Regions from separate parts of the Homo sapiens genome. Here all the other regions are reported to be linked to region 2. Evidence: microRNA targets listed by miRTarBase, many of them from high-throughput screens and not tested one by one. Region 2 holds a microRNA gene; each other region holds the end of a gene's coding sequence.
What was found. The annotated mature microRNA hsa-let-7f-5p reads UGAGGUAGUAGAUUGUAUAGUU and lies in region 2 at 1,157-1,178, shown strand. An mRNA with a match to its seed (bases 2 to 7 or 8) in the 3' UTR can be bound and repressed. Matches are read on the target gene's strand: a 7mer-m8 pairs with bases 2 to 8, a 7mer-A1 pairs with bases 2 to 7 and ends in A, and an 8mer does both.

Region 1: miRTarBase lists RAB19 as a target of hsa-let-7f-5p. Seed matches in the 3' UTR shown: 7mer-m8 at 935-941.
Region 3: the mRNA of PLAGL2 is a reported target of hsa-let-7f-5p. Seed matches in the 3' UTR shown: 7mer-m8 at 1,829-1,835.

What each region holds. Positions count from the first base shown.
Region 1 is chr7:140,425,992-140,428,991 of GRCh38, forward strand. It overlaps RAB19 (RAB19, member RAS oncogene family), which reads left to right. Exons shown (of 4, transcript NM_001008749.3): 4 at 1-1,983. The coding sequence ends at 159. Among named protein-coding and RNA genes, the nearest start is that of RAB19, 23 kb to the left of the region's middle.
Region 2 is chrX:53,555,424-53,558,423 of GRCh38, reverse strand. MIRLET7F2 (microRNA let-7f-2) reads left to right here and starts at 1,150; the gene lies at 1,150-1,232. HUWE1 (HECT, UBA and WWE domain containing E3 ubiquitin protein ligase 1) reads left to right here. Exons shown (of 84, transcript NM_031407.7): 60 at 997-1,042. It overlaps MIR98 (microRNA 98), which reads left to right and starts at 2,083; the gene lies at 2,083-2,201.
Region 3 is chr20:32,193,655-32,196,654 of GRCh38, reverse strand. It overlaps PLAGL2 (PLAG1 like zinc finger 2), which reads left to right. Exons shown (of 3, transcript NM_002657.3): 3 at 1-3,000. The coding sequence ends at 203. Among named protein-coding and RNA genes, the nearest start is that of PLAGL2, 13 kb to the left of the region's middle. RefSeq lists an enhancer at 1-352.

The DNA.
Region 1 (3,000 bases), not on the chromosome of region 2:
AAGAACATAGAAGAAGTCTTCGTGCTCATGGCCAAGGAGCTGATCGCGCGCAACAGCCTGCACCTATATGGGGAGAGTGCCCTGAACGGCCTCCCCCTGGACTCCAGCCCCGTTCTTATGGCCCAGGGTCCAAGTGAAAAGACCCACTGCACTTGCTAAGATGTTTGCAAAGCCAGTTGCACCCACCAAAGAGGCCGCCTCTGAAACCAAAGGTAGCCAGGATACCGTAGTGTTGCCCCAGTGGCGCTTTAGACCCCAGCGTGGACTTGCCGCTCACCCCTAATCCTCCCAGTCTGGATGGGCCACACTTCTCCCTTGACTCACACCACAGGTCATAGCTGCTGACTCTCAGGAAAACCAGCACCATTGTTTTCACTGACTCTTGACTCCTGGAGAAGGCAGGACTTCAGGCTAGGAGAGGGAGGACGAAGTGTACTCTTCTCCCCTTTCACTTTTCTGTCTCCCTAGAGCTTCTGCTGCTTTCTACTGAATTTTGTTTCTTGCTTGAAGAAGAGGGTAGTGAAGGAAAGGAGGAAGGCAAAACAGCAAGAGAGAGAAGAGGCTGTTTGGAACATTCTGGAACAGTTTGAAACAGCTCAGGCAGGGAGAATGGAACGAAAGCCTGCAATGAGAAACCAGAATGCTGCTATCATTTTGTTCCTGACATTCACACCTCAGGTCTTCACTTTGGGGAGCGAAGCCTTTTAGCAGAAATACCAGAAGTACCATCTTGCCAAATGGTCAGGAACTGTCTGATAGAGATGGAACTGGAATTCACTCTATTCTAGCAGGGCTGACTTGGCCACCCTCTTGGGATAGGGGAAGACACCTGCAATTTTTTTTCTTTCTTTTTTTTTTTTTTTTTTTTGAGACAGGGTCATACTCTGTCACCCAAGCTGGAGTATAGTGGTGGGATCTTGGCTCACTGCAACCTCTACCTCCTGGGTTCAAGAGGTTCTCCCACCTCAGTCTCCCAAGTGGCTGGGACTACAGACACACGCCACCACTCCTGGCTAATTTTTGTATTTTTTGTAGAGACAAGGTTTCACCATGTTGCTCAGGCTGATCTTGAACTCCTGAGCTCAGGTGATCTGCCCACCTTGGCTTCCCAAAGTGCTGGGATTACAGGCATGAGCCACCATGCCTGTTCTTTTTTTTTTTTTTTTTTTTTGAGACTGAGTCTCACTCTGTCACTCAGGCTGGAATGCAGTGGCATGATCTCGGCTCACTGCAACCTCAACCTCCACCTCCTGGGTTCAAGCAATTCTCCTGCCTCAGCCTCCCAAGTAGCTGGGACTACTGGCACTCACTACCACGCCCAGCTCATTTTTTTTGTATATTTAGTAGAGACTGGGTTTCACTACGTTGGTCAGGCTGGTCTTGAACTCCTGACCTCATGATCCACCCGTCTCGGCCTCCTAAAGTGCTGGGATTACAGGCATGAGCCACCATGCCCGGCCCTTTTTTTTTTTTTTTTGAGACAGAGTTTCGCTCTTGTTGCCCAGGCTGGAGTGCAATGGTGTGACCTCGGCTCACTGCAACTTCTGCCTTCCAGATTCAAGTGATTCTCCTGCCTCAACCTCCCTAGTAGCTGGGATTACAGCCTCCCGCCACCACGCCTAGCTAATTTTTGTGTTTTTAGTAGAGGCAGGGTTTCACCACGTTGGCCAGGCTGGTCTCGAACTCCTGACCTCATGATCCACCTGTCTCGTGGCCTCCCAAAGTGCTGGGATTACAGGTGTGAACCACCGCACCTGGCCTTTTTTTATTATTATTATTGTAGAAATGAAGTCTTGCTACGTTGCCCAGGCTGGTCTCCAATTCCTGAGCTCACAGGTTTCTCCCACCTCAGCCTCCCAAAGTGCTGGGATTACAGGCATGAGCCACCATGCCTGGCACAATTTCTTTCTAGAACCCAAATCATCTGCCAGATCAGAAGTCATTTTTAAATTAAAATTAAATTGGTTCATAGATGAATATCAAGCCAGTGTTGTACTGCCCCTTCTGTAAGATATGGCCAGAGAGCAGCTGGTGCCTTCTGGGATGGAGTAACTGCGGCTTTCAGAACTAAACACGTAAGAGGAGGCTGGAAGTCACCAGGCACCCCTCGTTTCCAGGACTGTGTTAGGGGACATCAGGGCAGGCAGCAGGAGCAGGCCACGGAGCCCCTCCAGGGTCCCAGGGAACTGTGGACACTCACCTGGGGCTTCCGGAGGACAAACACCACTTATGATTGCAGCTGACATTTACTGAGCTGCTTCTCATGGCCAGAAGTTGTGTGAGGTCTGGGGAAAGCAAATGGTCCCTTTGGTTTGTGATGCCAGTGGAGGGGAAAAGAGGTACCAGCCGCATTCTGCTGCTCCTCTTTTTTTTTGAGACGGAGTCTCGCTCTGTCACCCAGGCTGGAGTGCAATGGTGTGATCTTGGCTCACTGCAACCTCCACCTCCCAGGTTCAAGTGATTCTCCTGCCTCAGCCTCCCGAGTAGCTGGGATTACGGGGGTATACCACCACACCTGGATAATTTTTGTATTTTTAGTAGAGACAGGGTTTCACCATGTTGGTCAGGCTGGTCTTGAACTCCTGACCTCAGGTGATCCACCTGCCTCAGCCTCCCAAAGTGCTGGAATTACAGGCTTGAGCCACTGCACCTGGCCTGCTGCTCCTCTTAACACCCTTGGACTTCCTGGCATCCTCTCATCCAGCAGTAGCTCTCAGTTCCCCCTTTCCCTGCGCCACATTTTTTTTTTTTTTTTTTGAGGCAGCGTCTCACTCTGTTGCCCAAGTTAGAGTGCAGTGGTGTCATCTCAGCTCACTGCAACCTCCACCTCCCAGGTTCAAGCGATTCTCCTGCCTCAGCCTCCTGAGTAGCTGGGACTACAGGCGCATGCCACCACACCCAGCTAATTTTCTGTATTTTTAATAGAGACGGGGTTTCACCGTGTTAGCCAGGATGGTCTCGATCTCCTGACTTTGTGATCCTCCCCCCTTGGCTTCCCAA
Region 2 (3,000 bases):
TGGCTTCTCACTCAACAGTCACACTGCATAGTCTCTACCGCCAAGGACAGCATCAAGACAAGGAGAAAAACCTTATCTAAGTCCATGCTCTTAGTCGCCCACTTCCATTTCTGTCGGTGAACTGCCAGTGTGGGGAATCTTACCGAGATGACCCCATTCCGTCATTTGAGTAAGATCAGCCTAGGTGTCAGATCAGAGAAAATGTTTGTACTCTGAACCCCATCACCACATGTCATTTTTTCTAGGGCTCACATGTATAAAATCACTAATACAATTTTGGTTTAGAAGGAAGTTACCTACTTTTTTCTGAAACTTCTGGGACCTCAGACAGAGATCTTTTAAATGTCTGAGTAAATGTTGATAGAATTATACATTACAGTGTATCACTTGATATAAAAGGGGGAAAAACTGATAGAAATACAAAGAAATAAGACTTGAGAGTGAAAGACTTTAGTATACCCTACTCAGCAGTTAAGGAATCAGGTAGATTAAAAATAAGGGTAGTGAAGTGTTCAGTTAAAATAACAAGGTTGATCTAACAAATATCTTTATATAGAACTTTTTACCTAATACACACATTGTTTCAAACTTGATATAGGATGAAAAATAAGTGAACCTAGCCTGTGACTGAAAAGACTAGAGTGGACAAAATAAAAAATAAGCCCCATGAAGGGAAAAAATACATAGATGAAACCAAGAAATTCTTGCTAGAATGATCATGATCGTGCCCATCCCTAAGGGGTTTTTATTATCCTTTCCTTCCATATTTATTTCCCCCTCAGCCCCAAACAATTCTTGAACCTGAGTATGTATAGAGAAATTGGTCATATATTTGCACAGTGAAATGATCACCTTCCTTTGGTCACATGGCCAAAGCATTCTCCATTAGATCACTGAACTCCTAGATGGTCTGGGTGGAGGATGGTGACTATTACAGTTGACCTCTATCTTAGGTGCTTGCAAAGTCCCACATTGGTCTATCCCTTCTTTTTGCAGTGTACTGCATCTAAGTCAAATGACTCCACTGAACAGAATCTCTCAGGTAACTCTCCTTCCCTTTCTCCCTTCTTACTAATCAATTGGTTGCTTCTTTATCCTGATAGTTCCGAGTAGCTGGCCCACATAGGCTGAAGATGGACACTGGTGCTCTGTGGGATGAGGTAGTAGATTGTATAGTTTTAGGGTCATACCCCATCTTGGAGATAACTATACAGTCTACTGTCTTTCCCACGGTGGTACACTTCTTCTCCGACTGGCTCTGTTCAGGTTCTTGTTCTGGTTATTATCTACTTTGTTCTGGCATGGGTAATGAGGTCATGTGTCTTGTTCATTTCCTGACTGCAACTCTGTCCTCTGAAACAGCATGTTCATGTACATCTTTGAAGTGGCTGGTCCTTTGATGACCACCATGGTGTGGCACTTCATGAGAATAACTGATGACAGTGGTTCTCAAATGCCAGTCCTCTGTGGAAACGAACAAAATCAAGGAGCTTTAATGCCTTTTTCATAAAGCTGAATTTATTCCATTTAAAAGGCTGTTTTTGTATTTAGAGATCATATTCCTAATTCTGTGGTACCAAAATATTTTTATTAAATGATGTTGATTGGATGTTTTTTCTTACATGGCTAAACTAAAAGTTGGCAACCCCTACATTAGTCTCTACTTTTTGTTCTTTTTTTAATTAAATTTTATTGGTCCATGGAATCTAAAAGTCTAGGAACATTGTCTTGGATAGTGTGCTGTTCATGAAGGTAGCTCTCTGGGCTTAGTGGTATGACTGCCGTATGTTTCCTATTCCCTCTGATCTTCTTAACAATGGTCAGTAGCCATTTTGTGATTCTATCAGTTGGTTCATGTGATATCATATGTCTCCCCCACCCATATTTCCTCAGAACATTCTTCTGCCTCCCTACACCTGTCTCCTTTCGCACTTGAGTTGGAAAATGATTGTACCAAAGCCTGCACAATATTTTTTAAAGCAGTGAAGTAGGGTAGATGCCTTGGTACCCTTAATCTAGCAAAAGATCTTTAAAAGAGTCTGTCACCATGTAAAATGGCCTTTTGCCTGCTGCCCTTATTAGAGGATTCTGCTCATGCCAGGGTGAGGTAGTAAGTTGTATTGTTGTGGGGTAGGGATATTAGGCCCCAATTAGAAGATAACTATACAACTTACTACTTTCCCTGGTGTGTGGCATATTCACACTTAGTCTTAGCAGTGTTGCCTCCATCAGACAAAGTTGTAGATGTTCCTTGGATAATTTGGACTGGAAGAAAAGAGACATGGAAGGGGACAGATGGTGTTTAGGGTGAGGCAGATGTCATTATAAAGTGACTTGTCTTTCATTAATTGGAGCATATAATTATTTTACCTTTGGGCATGAACTCATTTTGCTATTCTTCAACTGTGTAATGATTGCATTTTATTAGTAATAGAACAGGAATGTGTGCAAGGGAATGGAAAGCATACTTTAAGAATTTTGGGCCAGGCGCAGTGGTTCATGCCTGTAATCCCAGCATTTTTGGGAGGCCGAGGCGGGTGGATCACCTGAGGTCAGGAGTTCGAGACCAACCTGGCCAACACGGCGAAACCCCGCCTCTACTCAAAATACAAAAATTAGCCAGGCTTGGTGACACTCGCCTGTGGTCCCAGCTACTCAGGAGGCTGAGGCAGGAGAATTGCTTGAACCCAGGAAGTGGAGGCTTCAGTGAGCTGAGAACACGCCACTGCACTCCAGCCTGGGCAACAGAGCAAGACTCTGTCTCAGGAAAAAAAAAAAAAAAAAAAAGATTTTGAAGGGCTGGACGCAGTGGCTCACGCCTGTAATCCCAGCACTTTGGGAGGCCGAGGTGGGTGGATTGCTAGAGCTTAGGAGTTTGAGACCAGCCTGGGCAACATGGCAAGACCCTGTCTCTACTAAATATACAAAAAATTAGTCAGGTATGGTGGCACATGCCTATAGTCTCAGCTACTTGGGAGGCTGAGGTGGGAAGATCACCTG
Region 3 (3,000 bases), not on the chromosome of region 2:
CACCTGGGGCCACAGGAGGCCTGGTCATGGGCTACTCCCAGGCTGAGGCACAGCCCCTGCTTACCACTTTGCAAGCTCAGCCTCAAGATTCCCCAGGAGCTGGGGGACCACTGAACTTTGGGCCTCTGCACTCCTTGCCTCCTGTCTTCACGTCTGGCCTGAGTAGCACCACCCTGCCTCGTTTCCATCAAGCATTCCAGTAGCCCCCACAGAGGCCCTCAGCTCAGTTTTTGGCTCTGTTATGGAGCCTTAGTACCCACCCCGTCTGTGTCCCCCATGAAGGCAGCTGAGCTTTCAGAGCTGGGTTCAAAAAAAAAAATTCCAGTGTCTGTATACAGGAGCACTTGGTTTGGGGGTTCAGGCTCTAGGATCGATTCCAGAAGGAGCCTTGAGCCCCAACCCCGTGAAAAGATCTCATACCGTAGGACTTCAGGTATTATTTACTTTTATTTTTTTGACCTGAATCGGGAGCCACACTTGGCCCTCTTCCTCTCCAAAGCGCCAGAACCTCCTTCTCTTTGGAGAATGGGGAGGCCTCTTGGAGACACAGAGGGTTTCACCTTGGATGACCTCTAGAGAAATTGCCCAAGAAGCCCACCTTCTGGTCCCAACCTGCAGACCCCACAGCAGTCAGTTGGTCAGGCCCTGCTGTAGAAGGTCACTTGGCTCCATTGCCTGCTTCCAACCAATGGGCAGGAGAGAAGGCCTTTATTTCTCGCCCACCCATTCCTCCTGTACCAGCACCTCCGTTTTCAGTCAGTGTTGTCCAGCAACGGTACCGTTTACACAGTCACCTCAGACACACCATTTCACCTCCCTTGCCAAGCTGTTAGCCTTAGAGTGATTGCAGTGAACACTGTTTACACACCGTGAATCCATTCCCATCAGTCCATTCCAGTTGGCACCAGCCTGAACCATTTGGTACCTGGTGTTAACTGGAGTCCTGTTTACAAGGTGGAGTCGGGGCTTGCTGACTTCTCTTCATTTGAGGTCACATTTTTCCCCCGTGGGGAAATAAACTGACTTTGGACTGCTTCAGTCTCTGCCATCTTCCATGACTGCATTTGTTCCTGCCTGCCTCGGCGGTATCCACAGAAGACAGGCAAGAGGATTGGAGCAGTTTTCTCACAGGTCTGCAATTCTGTTTTTCTCCAAGTACATTATGACCCCCTCATCCTTCTCTTGAACTGGAGAGGGGAAGAAATGAAAGGCATGCCCACGTCCGTCACCTCCCCATCCCCTAGTCCCCACCTTGAACATCATGAGCTGTTGTTATTAGTCTTGGAAGCAGAGTCTGGGTTGGTGTGGATAGCAAAGGAGGAAGTCTGAGCCCCTCATTGGTCTTCCTCCCACCTGTCCCTTTTCCGGGAAGTTGTGGAATTGTTGGAAGAAGAGTTTGCAGAAGGTTAGGAATGGGTAGATAGCTAAGTCCTAATCTATGGGTACATTGTTGTGTCCCAAACCAAAATTTTCCTTATCCACAATGTCCCTTCTGTCTCTTCCACTTTACAGTGGACTCGGCCACTGTGCATAGGCTTCTCTGCTCTCCATCAAATCACTTCCACTTTCCTGTGCCCCCACCCCCGCCTCCAGTTTTCCGCTAGTATCCGGCAAGGTTTCTTGCAACAAATGATTAGTTCTTTTCTTCTGACTCGTGGGGCTCCCTGCTGCAGAGAGCACAGCCCTTGCCTGGAGCCCAGGAACCCCATCCTTGCTTCATCTCAGTTCTTCATGGGCTTCACTCTTCCCACTCACGGAAGGGAGGTAGCTCAGGGACCTCCACTGTGGGACCCTTGAGACGCTTCCACTCTGATTCAGAAACACACTTCTACCTCTTTACTGTTAACTCTTAACAGATGCAGTCAGCAGTTTCTGGGCACTTCTCTCAGTAGGTGCCTCATGCTGACTTCTCCAGTAGGGTTTCAGGACAAACTACCAAGGAATTGCCTCAGCCTCCTACCAGTCCTCCCTCACCCACCTTCTGTCTAGGTTCACTTGGTTTGTCATCAGGAACTGAGCAGGTCCAGGACTCAGCTTTCTGCTTCAGCCTAAGCCAGTACTCCTTGTTTGAGGTAAAAGCCTTAAAATTTAGCTCCCTAGCTCTTGATTAGAAGCAATTTGGAGTAAGTGTGTTTTGATTTAGGCAGGGTAGCTTGGGATACCTTTTTAAAAACACCAGATATTAAAATGTCTGGCAAGGTTAGAATCAGACTAGATGATTTGCTTCTAAAAATTAGTTTCAGTGAGTCCCAGGGACTAATTAAGGTTTATTTTAAAAAGTGTCTACCTTGGTACGCAGCCACCTCCTGCATGCTGTGCATGTTATTGGGACTTGTATTATAGGTGATGGTATGTGAGAATCCAGTTGGGACTCGCTGTTGCCATCCTCTTTGTTGTATCTGGTTTTCATCACTAGACTCAGCAACCCTTCTCACCTTAACTGCCACCTTCCCTACACTCTCAGTTTACAGAGGCCACTGGGCCTCTGGCTGCAGAATACAAAGTCCCGGGCTGTTAGAGGAGTCCTTTCCTCTCTGCCTGCCCTTTCCTGTCCCTCCCTCGAATTCTCTCTCCCCGTAAGTGATGCTGGAAAAGTCATAGGACTGGCAAAGCAACTGTTTAAACCCTTTGTAACCGGGGCCTTGCCCCCACCTCCTGTCTTTTCTCCTTGCCTTCCCCACTCCTGTGTCCTCCCATCTATCCTGTCTTTCCTTTCCTCCTCTCAGTGTCCTCAGCACCCACAAGGAATTTTCCTATCACTGTGAACTTTGCTGGTACAGAGGAATAATATCTGCCTTCACCTTTTTTTTTTTGGACCATAGCTAGCCAGTCATTTCTTAAACCTCCCTTCCTAAAATCTGGGGGGTCGGGGGGAAAGAAAAAAAAAGCCTTAGTGGCCTGGTTGTTCAAAGGATAAGAATAGCTTTATCCTGCACTCAGTACCCGAACTCACTTCAGTATGCTTACTGAGGCCATGAGAACCTGAGGGGCATCTGCCCA